2 separate regions of the Homo sapiens genome follow, and region 2 is linked to region 1. Evidence: fine-mapped expression QTL. Tissue or cell type: whole blood. Region 1 holds a variant in brackets; the other region holds the start of a gene. All regions are shown on one strand. Distances are from middle to middle.

What was found. PIP is the estimated chance that this variant, and not a neighbour inherited with it, causes the effect.
Region 2: ABL2 starts here. The variant in region 1 is fine-mapped to the expression of ABL2 in whole blood (TOPMed, PIP above 0.99).

Annotation. Positions count from the first base shown.
Region 1 is chr1:179,186,277-179,193,844 of GRCh38, forward strand. The region is part of intron 1 of ABL2 (ABL proto-oncogene 2, non-receptor tyrosine kinase); the gene reads right to left. Among named protein-coding and RNA genes, the nearest start is that of ABL2, 40 kb to the right of the region's middle. The variant A/G (reference allele first, on the strand shown) is at 3,370.
Region 2 is chr1:179,225,703-179,233,270 of GRCh38, forward strand. ABL2 (ABL proto-oncogene 2, non-receptor tyrosine kinase) reads right to left here and starts at 3,975. Exons shown (of 12, transcript NM_007314.4): 1 at 3,539-3,975. The coding sequence starts at 3,695. RefSeq lists an enhancer at 3,269-4,025 and a silencer at 3,481-3,890.

The DNA.
Region 1 (7,568 bases):
TACAACTACTTAATGAGTAATGTATACTAGCCTTGGAATTTATTTCACAATTCTTTTTGAGCGTGTGTGTTTGGGTTTATCAGCCATTTCAACTTCTTTTTTGTTGTTGTTGTTGTTTTGAGAGGGAGTTTCGCTCTTCTTGCCCAGGCTAGAGTGCAATGGCGTGATCTTGGCTCACTGAAATCTCCGCCTCCTGAGTTCAAGCGATTCTCCTTCCTCAGCCTCCCAAATAGCTGGGATTACAGGCGCCCACCACCATGCCCAGCTAATTTTTTTGTATTTTTAGTAGAGACGGGGTTTCACCATGTTGGCCAGGCTGGTCTCAAACTCCTGACTTCAGACACTGTGCCCGGCCTCAACTTCTTTCTTAAACCTGACTGGATCCAGCAAATATTTATTTAAAGTTTTGTCAATATGCCGGACTTTCCATTTAACTTTCATTTCCCATTTCTCTTCTGCTTCCAATACTATTTATTTATTTACAGAGTCTCGTTCTGTCACTCAGGCTGGAGTGCAATGGTGCAACCTAGGCTCATTGCAACCTCCACCTCCCAGGTTCAAGCAATTCTTAGGCCTCAGCCTCCCAAGTAGCTGGGACCACAGGTGCATGCCACCATGCTTGGCTAATTTTTGTATTTTTAGTAGACACGGGGTTATGTCATGTTGGCCAGGCTGGTCTCGAACTCCTGACTGCAAGTGATCCACCTGCCCCCACAAAGTGCTGGGATTACTGTTGTGAGCCACCACGCCCGGCCCCATTACCATTTATAGTGTACTTTTCAGTGTCCACCTTGGTTTTCCATTTTCTACATCTTTACCATGTCTAGTCTCTTTGTCTCTCTTATATGTGATTTCATTTTTGACTCAAGGGCCTTCATTCACCCAGTTAGTTATTAGGAGTTCTGAGATCCTCAGATTTCAGATTTCCCACATTCCACTCCTTTCTGCAATACCAGATGCAGCAGGTTTGCCAGTAAATTCAAACATATTATTCTGTCAGTTTAAATTTTCCAAGTTGACATTTTTATATTCCATTTATTTTCATCACTAGCAACTTGGTTGCTTAAAGTCTAAGGATTTTGCCTTTTAAATACTTTCTAGCACTTTGATATACATTGGAGAAACCAAAGAAGTTTCAAATTCAAAATGTCATCTAGTCAAAATGGGGAGGAAAAAATAGTACCCAATATTTAATTTGTCAAAACTGTGCAACACAGCCTTTTTTGGAAGGCCTAAGAAAAAAAATTATTGTATGCTATAATATAACTATAAAAGGTATTGGAGTTTCTTTGGGGAATTTTACCATATTTCTTGAAATAAGGGATCTGTACAAATTTGAATCCCTCCAGAGTTTAACTGTAATTCCTAAAGTTATCATTTACAAATATAAATGTTCATTATGAATTCATTTTTACTTCTTACCTCCATTCCTCAAGGGGTAAAAGTCAAATCTAGGGAAGAAATAATACTAACTAAATTTGATAAAGCTCACTGTATCTAGTACAGTGTTGTATACTCTATGGCTATTTCAGACTCATAACTAATCTCTCTGCTTTCACCCTTGTCCCCAAGAGTTTATTGTCCACAAATCAGCTAGACTGAACCCTATAAACTCTCCAAAAGATTCCCATCCCACTCAGAATAAAATCCTACTTCCTTATGATATACAAATCCTACATAACCAGTCATCAGCAATCCCCATCACTACTCCCACACAATTCTTTTACTTTCTTTTTCCTCTTATATATTATCCCCTACCATTCTCCTTCAGCCTTCTTCTCCAGCCAGTCTAGCCTCTTCTGCCATTCTGGAAGGATATACACCTCTACTGTAAATACAGTCTCCAGACTTTTGCCCTTGATGGTCCTCTTCCTGAAATGTTTTTATCTCAAAAGCCAAAAGTTTGACTCTTTCAGTAATTCTCTGCTCAAACGTTACCCCATCAGAGGCTTTCCCCAGCCACCCAATCTAAAACAGCACATCTGCTGGGCGTGGTGACGCAGGCCTGTAATCCCAGCACTGTGGGAAGCCAAGCTAGGTAGATCACCTAAGGGCAGGAGTTGGAGATGAGCCTGGCCAATATGGCGAAACCCTATCTCTACTAACAATACAAAAAAAAAAATAGCGGGACGTGGTGGCACACGTCTGTCATCCCAGCTACTCAGGGGGCTGAGGCAGGAGAATTGTTTGAACGCGGGAGGTAGAGGTTGCAGTAAGCCGAGATCACACCACCACACTCCAGCCTGGACAACAGAGCAAGACTCTTGTCTCAAAAAAATAAAATTAAAACAGCACCTCTACTATCACTCTCTCCCTTTACCCAGCACTATCTTCCTTCCTACCACTAATCACCACATTGTATAGTAAATAAATATTTAGTTAGCACCTGTCTCCACGCACTATAATGTAATTTCCAAGAAGGCTGTGATTTGTTCAGTGCTGTATTTCCAGTGCCAAGAAACTACCTGGTAGGTGCTCAGTAACTGTTGAGTAGATGAAAATCTAAAATGTCTGACTCTAGAATCCATGTTATCAACTTTAATTATTCATACACACCAAAGAAGTCCTTTAAATAATAAATGTTAAAAGTATATTTAAACTGAGACTATTGATTGCCTCTAGAGAAGAGGCTAAAGGGAGAGAAATATAGGGAGATTAAATGTATACCCCTTAAATCTTGAACTATATTAACGAGTTAATTTTTCAAAATTAAACAAAATGTAACATGTTAATTTAACAGGTTATAACAATGACTGAATTACATTAACTTTCCAGTTTAATTCTGCATTCTCATGATGTGGAACACTAATGGCCAAAACATGACAATCTTCATGTTGTTCTCGGGTGTTTTTTGTTGTTGTTATTGTTGTTGTTTTGAGACAGAGTTTCACTCTTGTTGCCCAGGCTGGAGTGCAATGGTGCGATCTAGGCTCACTGCAACCTTCGTCTCCCAGGTTCAAGTGATTCTCCTGTCTCAGCCTCCCGAGTAGCTGGGATTACAGGTATGCACCACCACAGCCGGCTATTTTGTATTTTTAGTAGAGACGGGGTTTCACCATGTTGGCCAGGCTTATCTCAAACTCCTGACTTCAGGTGATCCGCCCACCTTGGCTTCCCAAAGTGCTGGGATTACAGGCATGAGCCACCGCGCCCTGCCCTGTTCTAGGGTATTTTAATAAGACTCTCCAGGAATTTCTCAGAGAACAAGTTAAATGTTACTTTCTTAAATGTTCCCTACTCTTGTATCATATTACATCTTAATTAGCAATCGTCTTGTCACTAGGAAGTCGTTATGTACATTCATTTATTCATTCATAAAGGGTGACACAGCTACCAAACGGTAAGAGGAGTCTGAGGATAGAAAAAACA[A/G]AACCCCAAAGTGTTTTGGCCTACTCTCACCACTCAACACAATATTTCTAACACCAGATGTGTGGGGTTATTTCCTCCACACACCAAGCAAGCAGTGCACAAGCTGGTGTCTTACAATTTAACTCACTTCTATCTACCTAGAGACAGAAGCGCACAAGCTGGGTGTCTTACCATTTTTTTTGTTTTTTTTTTGAGACGGAGTTTTGCTCTTGTTGCCCAGACTGGAGTGCAACGGCGTGATCTCGGCTCATGGCAACCTCCGCCTTCCAGGTTCAAGCAATTCTCCTGCCTCAGCCTCCTGAGTAGCTGGAATTACAGGCATGCACCACCATGACGGGCTAATTTTGTATTTTTAGTAGAGACGGGGTTTCTCCATGTTGAGGCTGGTCTCGAACTCCTGACCTCAGGTGATCTGCCCACCTCGGCCTCCCAAAGTGCTGGGATTACAGGCGTGAGCCACCGGGCCCAGCCTGGGTGTCTTACAATTTAACTCAATTCTAATTCCACCTACCTAGAGATAGTGTCAGATTCCACAAGTCCAGGGCTCAGGCCCACATGACTGTCCCAGACTTCAGATGCCATTTCTGATTGATTGGCAATAAACTGGGATTTCCACAACCCCCTCCTTGGTTAGACTAATTTGCAAGAGTGGCTCACGGAACTCAGGGAAACACTTTACATACGTTTACTTATTTATTATAAAGGATATTACAAAAGATACAGATGAACAACCAAATAAAAAGATACACAGAGCAAGGTGTGGGAGAAGAGGGGCTGAGCAGAGTCCTTCAGGAACTTCCATGTGTTCAGCTATCCCAAAGCTGTCTCAACCCAGTACTTCTAGGTTTCGTGGAAGCTTCATTACATAGGCATAGTTGATTAAATCACTGGCCATTGTTGATGACGTTGATGACGTTAACTTTCAGCCTCTCCCCCCTCCACAGAGACGTGGGGGGTGGGGTGGGATGGAGGGGGGTGAGGGGGTGAGTGATGAAAGCCCCAACCTTCTAATCACGCCTCTCCTCAGTCTTTCAGGTGACCAGTCCCCATCCTGAAGCTATCTAGGGGTCCCCAGCCTCCAGTCACCTCATTAGCATACAAAAGATGCTCTAATCACCAGTGAGAGTCCTAGAATTTTAGGAGGTTTTTTTTGGCCGGGGAAACGGAATAAAGACCAAATATACATTTCACAATATCACATAATGTTTCATTGTTATAAGAAATTCTGTCACCAAAGTTGCCATAACAAAACAATATTCCAGGATATGGTCCATTATATCCAGAATTTAAGGTCCTAGGCCTGGTAATGGAGTTGAGAGGAAAAAGCGTTTAATAGGAAAAAGTAGAGGCAGCGATCCAGCCACTTCCCACTTCCCCTTCTAACCACAGCTAGTCCCTATTTAGATAGGAAGCCACTCCCAGTTCTCTTGAAAACAGCGGTCCTCTCAATTGCCAAGAAGGCCACAGGAAGAACGTCACTTTCAGAAAAGAAAACCCAGAATGATGACAGTAATGAAATCCTTCATGGACCAATACTAGACTAATGGTCTTCCCAGTACTTTATATTCTTACTACATCACAAAGGGTAAGGATTATAAACCCAAAGTTAGAAAGAATAAGCACTGATTTCTGCCAGCTATAAGGTAATAGATGATTGCACTTAATTTTCAAAATCAAATAAGGCTGTATACTTTTCCAATTCTTCTATATTAAATTATTAGATGTTGTATGATAGTATGAGAACCTTAATCTTTCTGTATGAAATCCCTTTTTTTTTTTTTTTTTTTTTTTTGAGACGGAGTTTCGCTCTTATTGCCCAGGCTGGAGTGCAAAGGCACAATCTCGGCTCACTGCAACCTCTGTCTCCTGGGTTCAAGCGATTCTCTTGCCTCATCCTCCCAAGTAGCTGGGATTACAGGCATGTGCCACCATACCCAGCTAATTTTTTGTATTTTTAGTAGAGATAGGGTTTCACCGTGTTGTCCAGGCTGGTCTTGAACTCATTACCTCAGGTGATATCCACCCACTTCGGCCTCCCAAAGTGCTGGGATTACAGGCATGAGCCACCTTGTCCGGCCTCTGAAATTACTTCATATATACATATTCTGCTATCATTTAAATAATCAACACTCTGTAAAGGTTTTTAAAAATCACTAAAGAGTTTTCAAAACAATTACTAAGAAACAGTCTGTGTCATGTTAAATGACAGATGGAACAATTACTCAATTGAAATGAGACAGAAAATCTGACAATCAATTGGAAACTGTCATATAAAAATTAAGGTTGGACCTAAGCAAAAGCATTACAAATGGTTTTTCCTTTGCTTTTATATTCTCTTTAAGAAAAATACATTTAATTGCAAACAAAGTATAAAGCAGAAGAGTAACTTATACTTGGTGACATTTTACCATTCCCCTACAGTCAAAATATAACAAAATATTTGAACCAATCATATTTCACTCCTTGGTTAGTCACGTATATAGCAGGGACTCTATACTCAGTAGTTACAGATTTAGTTACGAAAAACAATCCACAGGAATACCTTGGCTCTCACTCTACCAAAGGTAGATATGGCTGGCATCTTGAGCATGCTAGTCAATCTATCCAAATGCACAACTACTCATATCCCACCACTCTCTAGCTGTTTCCTATTTCATTTCATTAGGGAGACAGAGACAAACCAAAAAATATGATAAGAGAATGTCAAATGTGGAATGTCAAACCCTTCCACCAACACTGTTATCTCCATAACATCCTATAAAATTATCACTCAAGCTCGAATTACAACAAACTCTCAATAAATCCTAGACCACTTTTATTCTCACTGGACAAATAAATATCCTTGTTCTTGTCCCACACTGCCTGAATTTCCATTTTCCAAGTCATGTTATCATAATGGCACACCAATTCACCCATTTGTTGTACCTGTAAGTACCAGAAAAATCAAGTAAATTAACTCAAGCAGGTTGAGTTAAATCTGACAATTGACTTAACCTTTAATTACTTATGTGCCAGACATAAAAGAATGAAACACATGGCATGCAGAAAAACTGTACAATCACATCACATAGAAAAAATTTTAAAACTAGGTTAAGTAAATTAATAAATTTTGGTTATTCAAAGTATGTTCTGAAACATTAAGTCTGATAACTTCTTCCTAATAAATACAAGAGTCTGAATTATTTTCTTAAAATTTTGCTATTTCAAGTACAGAACTTTTCACGTATTTTTCTTTAAAGCATTAAGTCACACTGTATTATGTCTATTTGAATTACTACTTAAATTACTAGAAAGAAATCAAGATAACATTAAACTCTTAAAATATCTTTGGTAACAGAATGAATTATCTTCTGCGTTGTTGTCTATATCAAAGGTCATATCATATTTCATACTTTTCTAAGGTAAACATTTAAACAGCATACATGGTATGATGGAGAAAATTATACAAACTCACACCAAATATCAGCCTTTCTGAATTTCCAAAAAAGGGCACAACTTGCAAAAAAAAATGAGAACCATAATTTTCATGTATCAAGAAAAAAAATATAATAATCTGTTTTTCTAAAGTGCCCGAAGAAGTCAATTTGTGGCAACACTACCAGAAAAAGTGGCCAATGAAATCACACAAAATTTCTAAACTTTAAAAATGTACTAGGCTCTTTCTAAAGGTGAATATTATTGTCAAATCAGTAACTCAAACCAGCCCTAAATGTCTGCTTTTTTTTTTTTCAGGTAAGCAAGTGGGATTTAATTTTTTGTTTGTTTGTTTCTTTTTTGAGACAGAGTCTCATTCTGTCACTCAGGCTGGAGTGCAATGGCGCAATCTTGACTCACTTGCAACCTCTGCCTCCTGGGTTCAAGCAATTCTCCTGCTTCAGCCTCCCAAATAGCTGGGATAACAAGCGCCTGCGACCACGCCCACCTAATTTTTTGTATTTTTAGTAGAGATGGGGTTTCACCATGTTCACCAAGCTAGTCTTGAACTCCTGACCTCAAGTGATCCACCCTCCTTGGCCTCTCAAAGTGCTGGGATTACAGGTGTGAGCCACCGTGCCTGGCCTAATTTTTTGTTGCTGTTGTATTTTGTTTTTTTGGTTTTTTTTGGAGACGGAGTCTCGCTCTGTCGCCCAGGCTGGAGTGCAATGGCGCGATCTCGGCTCACTGCAAGCTCCATCTCCCAGGTTCACGCCATTCTCCTG
Region 2 (7,568 bases), 39 kb after region 1:
ACACAGAATTAGCCAGCCCAAAATATCAATGCCGCCGAGGTTAAGAAACTATGACGTGGCCGGAAGCGGTGGCTCATGCCTGTAATCCCAGCACTTTGGGAGGCCGAAGAGGGCGGATCATGAGGTCAGGAGATCAAGACCATCTTGGCTAACACGGTGAAACCCTGTCTCTACTAAAAATACAAAAAAAAATTAGCCGGGCGTGGTGGCAGGTGCCTGTAGTCCCAGCTGCTCGGGAGGCTGAGGCAGGAGAATGGCGTGAACCCGGGAGGCGGAGCTTGCAGTGAGCCGAGATCGCGCCACTGCACTCCAGCCTGGGCGACAGAGTGAGACTCCGCCTCAAAAAAAAAAAAAAAAAAAAAAAAAAAGAAACTATGATGTACAGAAAAAAACTTTTTAAACCCATCTGTCTAAAAAACAGTACTCACTGCACCTTTGTTTCCTATATTATTTGCTAATTCCTTTCTTTTCATACTAGTCTTTGGCAATAAACTCGACCTATTCCCATTTTTTCAATCAGCTTCTAACTTCCAAACTTGTCAATAGAATCTTCATCATCCCAGTTAGCCAGGTTCTAAATCCTGGTGTCATCTTTGAATTATCCCTACTTTTTTTTTTTTTTTTTTTTTGAGACAGAGTCTCGCTCTGTCACCCAGGCTGGAGTGGCGCGATCTTGGCTCACTGCAACCTCCACCTCCCGGGTTCAAGCGATTCTCCTGTCTCAGCCTCCTGAGTAGCTAGGACTACAGGCGCGTGCCACCATGCCCAGCTAATTTTTCTATTTTTAGTACAGACGAGGTTTCACCATGTTGCTCAGGCTGGTCTCGAACTCCTGACCTCATGATCTGCCCACCTCGGCCTCCCACAGTGCTGGGATTACAGGCGTGAGCCACCGCACCTGGCCGAATTACTCCTGTTTTTAATAATAACAGTAGTATTAGTAATGGCAGCAGCTACACACATTTAGCTCATACTATGTGCCCAGCCACTATTCATTTAATACTAGGTACTATTATTATCACCACTTTACAAATGAAGAGTCCAAGACACAAAAAGTTAAATAACTTGTCCCAGGTCACAAAGCTCATAAGCAGCCAAGCAAGGTTTCAAATCCAGGAAAAATGGGTCCAGAGTTCATGCCCTTAACAAATACTCCAAAGTGATCTCTCTTCTTTCATCCTCTATCAAATCATAAAGTCCTTTAAGTTCCAAAGGGCAGGGACTCTGTTATGTTCACAGCAACATTCCCACAATCCAGTACATAACAGGTGCTCAAAAAAAACCCTTGTTTGTTGAATGAATGAAAGGACCCTTGAAATTACTCCTCCCATTTCCACTGCCACCACTCAAGGCCAGTCTTTCAGGTAAAGACTAGCCAATCAGGTAAATGGATATAAACTTCTCTGCCAGATTTTCCATAACCCAGTCCCATCCAGCCTATCAAAATTTTCTTTCTACTGCTTCTTAATTAGAATCATAAAATCTTAAAACCAGAAAGTATCTTAGAGATCATCCAGTCCAACCTCCTCACTTTACAGATAAAGAAACCCAAAGATGGTGACTAAAATCACCCAGGCAGGTGGAGCCAGAACCAGAACTTGACTCTTCCAATTTTTGCTCTATGATCTTTTTCTTCCAACTCATAATGATGCTTCATTCCTGACAGCTGTCTCCTCACTAGCCCATCAACAAATTATATCTATTCCCATGTTCCCGTTCAAGTTGTTTCTTCTACCCAAATTGTTCTCCCTCTCCATAGATCCAAATCCTCAAAATGTCTTCCTATTCCATTCTTCATGACTTCCTCTTTCTTGGAAAATCTTACATACCGAATAAGATAGTAAAGCAAGAGGATCACCATTGCCTACTAGGCCAAGTTTAATGCATAGTAACACTTCCCACAAAGTGAAGCTTACTTGGATGATTTCTTCCCTGTAAACTACTAATCCATTCTTCCATCCTGTGTTTTAGGAAGTGATTTTAATAAAGATTAGCTCATATATCACCTTCATAAAGTGTTCATATACCCGAAAGAGACACTCAAGCACATCTTCAATAGGAGACATGTGGCCAGGCGCAGTGCCTCACGCCTGTAATCCCAGCACTTTGGGAGGCTGTGGCGGGTGGATCATGAGGTCAGGCGTTCGAGACCAGCCTGGCCAACATAGAGAAACCCCACCCTACTAAAAACACAAAAAATTAGCCGGGTGTGGTGGCGGGCGCCTGTAATCCCAGCTACTCCGAGGCTGAGGCAGGAGAATCGCTTGAACCTGGGAGGCAGAGGTTGCAGTGAGCCAAGATCACGCCACTGCACTCCAGCCTGGGCGACAGAATGAGACTCCGTCTCCAAAAAAAAAAAAAAAAAAAAAAGAGTTTGGGCCAGGAACGGTGGTGGCTCACACCCGTAATCCCAGCACTTTGAGAGGCCAAGGCAGGCAGATTACCTGATGTCAGGAGTATATGACAAAATCCCACCACCACCAAAAATACAAAAATTAGCCGGGCGTGGTGGTGCACACCTGCAGTTCCAGCTACTCGGGAGGCTGAGGCAGGAGAATCACTTGAACCCGGGAGGCAGAGATTGCAGTGAGCCGACATCCCGCCATTGCACTCCATCATGGGGACCAAAGCGAGACTCTGTCTCAAAAAAAACAAAAACAAAAACAAAACAAAAAAACAAGACAAAAAAAGTTTGGAGACAACTATTCTAAAAATACATTGACAATGAGATCAAAATAATAGGTTTCAGACTACAGGGAGCATACATACATGTATGTATGTATATGGGCACACGCACACACTACAAAGGAAAACTTGTTCATATCCTGACTGACGTCCTAACCATGCCCACCAACCTCTAGCCCTTGCCAGCAATCTCAGAATTGTGTGTCCTACTCTGAAGCATAGTACAGAGGCTTTGGCAAAGCCTTTCATTTCTAGTAAAAACGAAATACAAAACAAAATAAACCACAAAAGCATGTCAAAAGTGATAAGATGATGCTAACTTCATCTTCCCTACAGAAAAGCATTTGACACTGTCCACAGTTCACTATCCTGACACTGCTCATCACCTAACGTAAACACATACCTTGTACTCCACAATCTCCTGAAATTCAGTTCCCATTTCCCAATCCCTTAGGATACAACCCATTTCCCCTTCACTAACGACGGGTTTATGCTCCCACCTCTGGGACTGAGCTAATACTGCCCTTCATCCTTCCCTCTCCTGAAGCTGCCATTCACTTTCTTTCTGCAGCCGCATAGTCCCGTCCCAGAGTAGAGGACAGACCATCCAGGGTCCCCAAACCCACTTCTCTTTCCTTCTCCGCCCCCGGGATCTGCCAGCCAGGCTAGAGACGCGAGGGGGGAGGGGTGTGACTCGCCTCCCAGGACTGGACCAGATGGCAGCGGATTCCGCCCCCACTCTCAGGCACCTTCCACCCTCCGACCCCTCGGGCAGCCCGTCCGCCACCCACCCCGCCCCGACCCCACCCCCGGCCTCCCCCACGCTCTCATGCCGGCTCCCAGACACACTCACCATGCTGGGTGAAGATATTGAAGCCGGTCTCTGTGGTGCGCCCCGCCGGGTCCCGCCTGCGGCCGGAGGGCCTGGCTGCACTGCTGCCCCGGATCCCGCGGGGCTGAGGCTGCTGGAGCCCCGGAGCTTCCCCGACGCGGCCCACCTGCTGCCCCATCCCTGCTCTCGCGTACTCCCGCGCCCCCGCCGACCCCTGGTCACATTCCTCCTCGGCTCCGGCCTCGGGCTCCTGGCGCTGCTCCGGTCTCTCCCTCCCAGCCCAGGCCCTGGCCCTGAGTGGCTGGGCCACCGGCGGCTCCGCACCCGGCCTCCTCACGGCAGCCGCCGCGCTGCCTCCAGGCGACTCACAGATTCTGCTTTTCCCTCCTCCTGTCGCGGCTCCGCGCCCCCAACGCCGCCGCCGCCGCCGCCGCCACCGCCGCCGCCATCTTTAAACCACCGAGCGCTGGGAAAGCGTGGGACAGAGCGTCTCCCGCCCCCCGCCCCCCGCCCCCCGCCCGCCAGTCACCTCCGCCGCGGGGAAGGAGGGCTTCCCGGCTGCCGCCCCGCCCTGCCGCGCCGCGCCCCCCGTCCCCGCCCCCGCCTCCTCGCAGGGTGGGTCCCCCAGTGCCCACCTCATTTGCCGGCCACCGCTGCTTGAGGTCTTTCGTCCTCCGCGTCCTGTCGCCGCACCTCGGCGTCCCCCCCCTCAATCCGCCTCAGCCGACCCCCTCCCGCGTTCGGCTCCACACGCTACCGCCTTTGGGGTTGGTCGGTCTCCGGCCTTCCCCATCCCACCTCCACCTGTCAAATGAGTGAGTCGAGGGCTCAGTGCCACCGCGTGCGCAGCTCAGGTGCAGGCACAGGTGGGGCAGAAAAGCACAAGGCATTTATTTGGTCCTTGCCATCCAGTTAAGGAGCTCTAAAATACCCAGGGGGATCTCTTTTAAACACCCTTGTCAGCAGCAGGCCTCCAGTAAAAATTAAAATGGTATAAAATTTACAAGAAGAGAGTAAAATGCTACCTTATTTGATTTTAATTTTTGGAGATTATTTCATGATGTTAAATCGCACTGGCCTGGATTGTGTGCCTTCTATAGTCTCATTGGGGACGCAATTGTAGCCCCATTCCTCATATTATATTACCATGAATTCCTCTTGAACTCCTTTACCATCTCACCATATGTGAGTTTCTGTTTCCTTACAATGCCTGACAGTAAAGTTAATCTTCCCACTGGCATCCTTTATACACTGTGCACGTGGTCAGGTCTTCTTTTGATGACAAAGGAGAAAAAATATATATCTTTGACCCTGTTTCTGAGTCAGAACTTACTCATTTTAGCTTATGCAGTCTAAAGAGAGTGAATGAGGCAGAAAAGAAGCGTTTTATACATACACATATACTATATACAATTGACTCGCCATCCCCCTCTCCCACTGTGTTTACTTGCATCTTAATTCAATTTTTTTTAATTCTCAAATCTTGATCATTCTCCTGTTATTCTTTTGGCTTCCCAATTTGCTTTATAAAAAGTATCAGTTAATGGAGGTACTACACTGAAATTTTGCTTAAATTAGACAGGACGGGAGCCACTGCAAAGAAGGAACAAAACAACCACTGGAAATGTAGGGTTGGGAGAAGAGGTGGATGAAGCTCTCCTTTGCATATCTTTCCTGAACCAGGTTGACCTTAGATGAACCATCCACTGACGTAGATATTGCCTGTTGTAAAAGCACTATGAAATTATTCCATTGCCATCTAGGGTGTAGCCAGAAATAACTGAAATTAACTCCAAAATGGGAACGGAAACACTATGTGTAAACACTGGATAAAATATGAACTTTCCATTTGGATTAAAGTTTCCCTGTGTTTAAAATACCTGTCTTTTCTTCTAATTCCCAGTGTTTGCAACTACTGAAAAAAATTCATTCGAAAGGGATAAAGATGTCACAGAGCCGGAATTTGGTTTACTGTTTGATTTTTATTATGGGAGAAAATTTTAATTTGGGGATAATGGTTTGGTTTCTCTGCTAATTCATGCATACTATATAAAGATAGATGAATATATGGGTTGAACATCTCAAATCTGAAAATCCAAAATGCTGCAAAATTCGAAATTTTTTGAGCACCAATATGATGCCAGAGGTGGAACATTTCACGTAAGTACTTAACATAAACTTTGTTTCATGCACAAAATTTTTAAAATATTGTATTAAATTGCATTCAAGCTATGTGTATAAAGGTGTATATGAAACATAAATGAATTTTGTGTTTAGACTTGGGTCGCATGCCCAAGATATCTCATTATGTGTGTGTAAATATTCCCAAATCTGAAACACTTGTGGTCCGAACATTTCTGATAAGGGCTGCTCAGCCTGCAGTAGAGTGCAGTGGCTAAGGGCAGGGGCTCTGAAGCCAGACTGCTTGGGTTCATAACTTGGCCCTGATACTTATGGACTATTTGATCTGGGCAAAGTACATAACCTTTTTGTGTCTCAGTACATTATCTGTAAACTGATGATGATAACAAATAGTATCTACCTTATAGGAATATTGTGAAAATTAAATTAGTCAATATATATGTATAGTACTTAAAACAGTATTTGGCATATAACTGGTGTCATATATGCATATACTATTAATACAAAAAACATAATGGTTTTAGGTTTTACAAGCCTAACTTTTTCAAATTTTATATATATATATATATATAAATTTGAGCAATGGCCAGAGGCCAGCATAAAAGATCAGACACATCACCAACAGCAGTAAGGCGTGCTGAAGACACAGATACTCTTCATCCTCATCATCCTTATCACAGGAGCAACACCACTCTCTCCAGAAGGAAGGAGCTTGTGAGTAATGCCTCACCAATCCCTGACTTCACCAGTCTGCATTTCTAGGCTATTGCCATACTTTTTACAGTTTTACAGTATCTCTCATATCTACCTCTTCCCTTCATCTATATAAACAGCGTTATGTAAGACACAGTGTTAGCTTAGGCATCTCTGCGCTGGTTTCTCCCGCTACTAGCCCTTTCTTCCTAGAGATTCCTCACCTTTAGCACCAAGCAACTCACTCAAAGAAACTGCTTCTCTCATTGCTTTGACCACACTCTCCCTCTCATTCATTACGTACAAAGTCTTAAGTCTAAAATTTTCACCTAATGGGCCGGGCACAGTGGCTCATGTTTGTAATCCCAGCACTTTGGGAGGCCAAGGTGGGCGGATCACTTGAGGTCAGGAGTTTAAGACCAGTCAGGCCAATATGGTGAAACCCCGTCTCTACTAAAAATGCAAAAACTAGCCAATCGTGGGGGCGCGTGCCTGTAATCCCAGCTACTGGGGAACCTGAGGCAGGCGAATTGCTTGAGCCCAGGAGGCGGAAGTTGCAGTGACAGGAGATTGCGCCACTGCACCCCAGCCTAGGTGACAGAGGGAGTCTCTGTCTCAAAAATAAATAAATAAATAAATAAATAAACAAAATAAACGTTTCACCTAGTGTTTCGAAGTTATTTTCCAGGATAACTGGATTATAATTGCCTAATGTTCTTCCATCTCCTGTTCCTCCAACCTCCACCTTTCCTATGGCAGGCATACATACTTTATCCAATTAGCCTATTTCTGAGATGTATCCCTTTTAGCTATGAGTTTTGCAATAATTATATTCTCCCTAATATAAGTCTCGAGTGACTCCCTTACAGGATTCTACTGTCCTCTTCAGTATTCTATTCAGATCCTGCCTCCTTGATAAGAGAACCTCAGACTTATTAATACAGACCTAACAGTTTCCTCGGACTCTATTCAGTACAGGCCTTAACCACAACTGGTAATAATTCTTTCGTTATAAAATTCGCTTACCTTCCTCTACATCCCTCAAATATGGTTTTTTGTTTTTTGTTTTTTGTTTTTGATATGGAGTCTCGCTCTGTCCCCCAGGCTGGAGTGCAGTGGCGCGATCTCGGCTCACTGCAAGCTCCGCCTCCCGGGTTCACACCATTCTCCTGCCTCAGCCTCCCGAGTAGCTGGGACTACAGGCGACCACCACTAC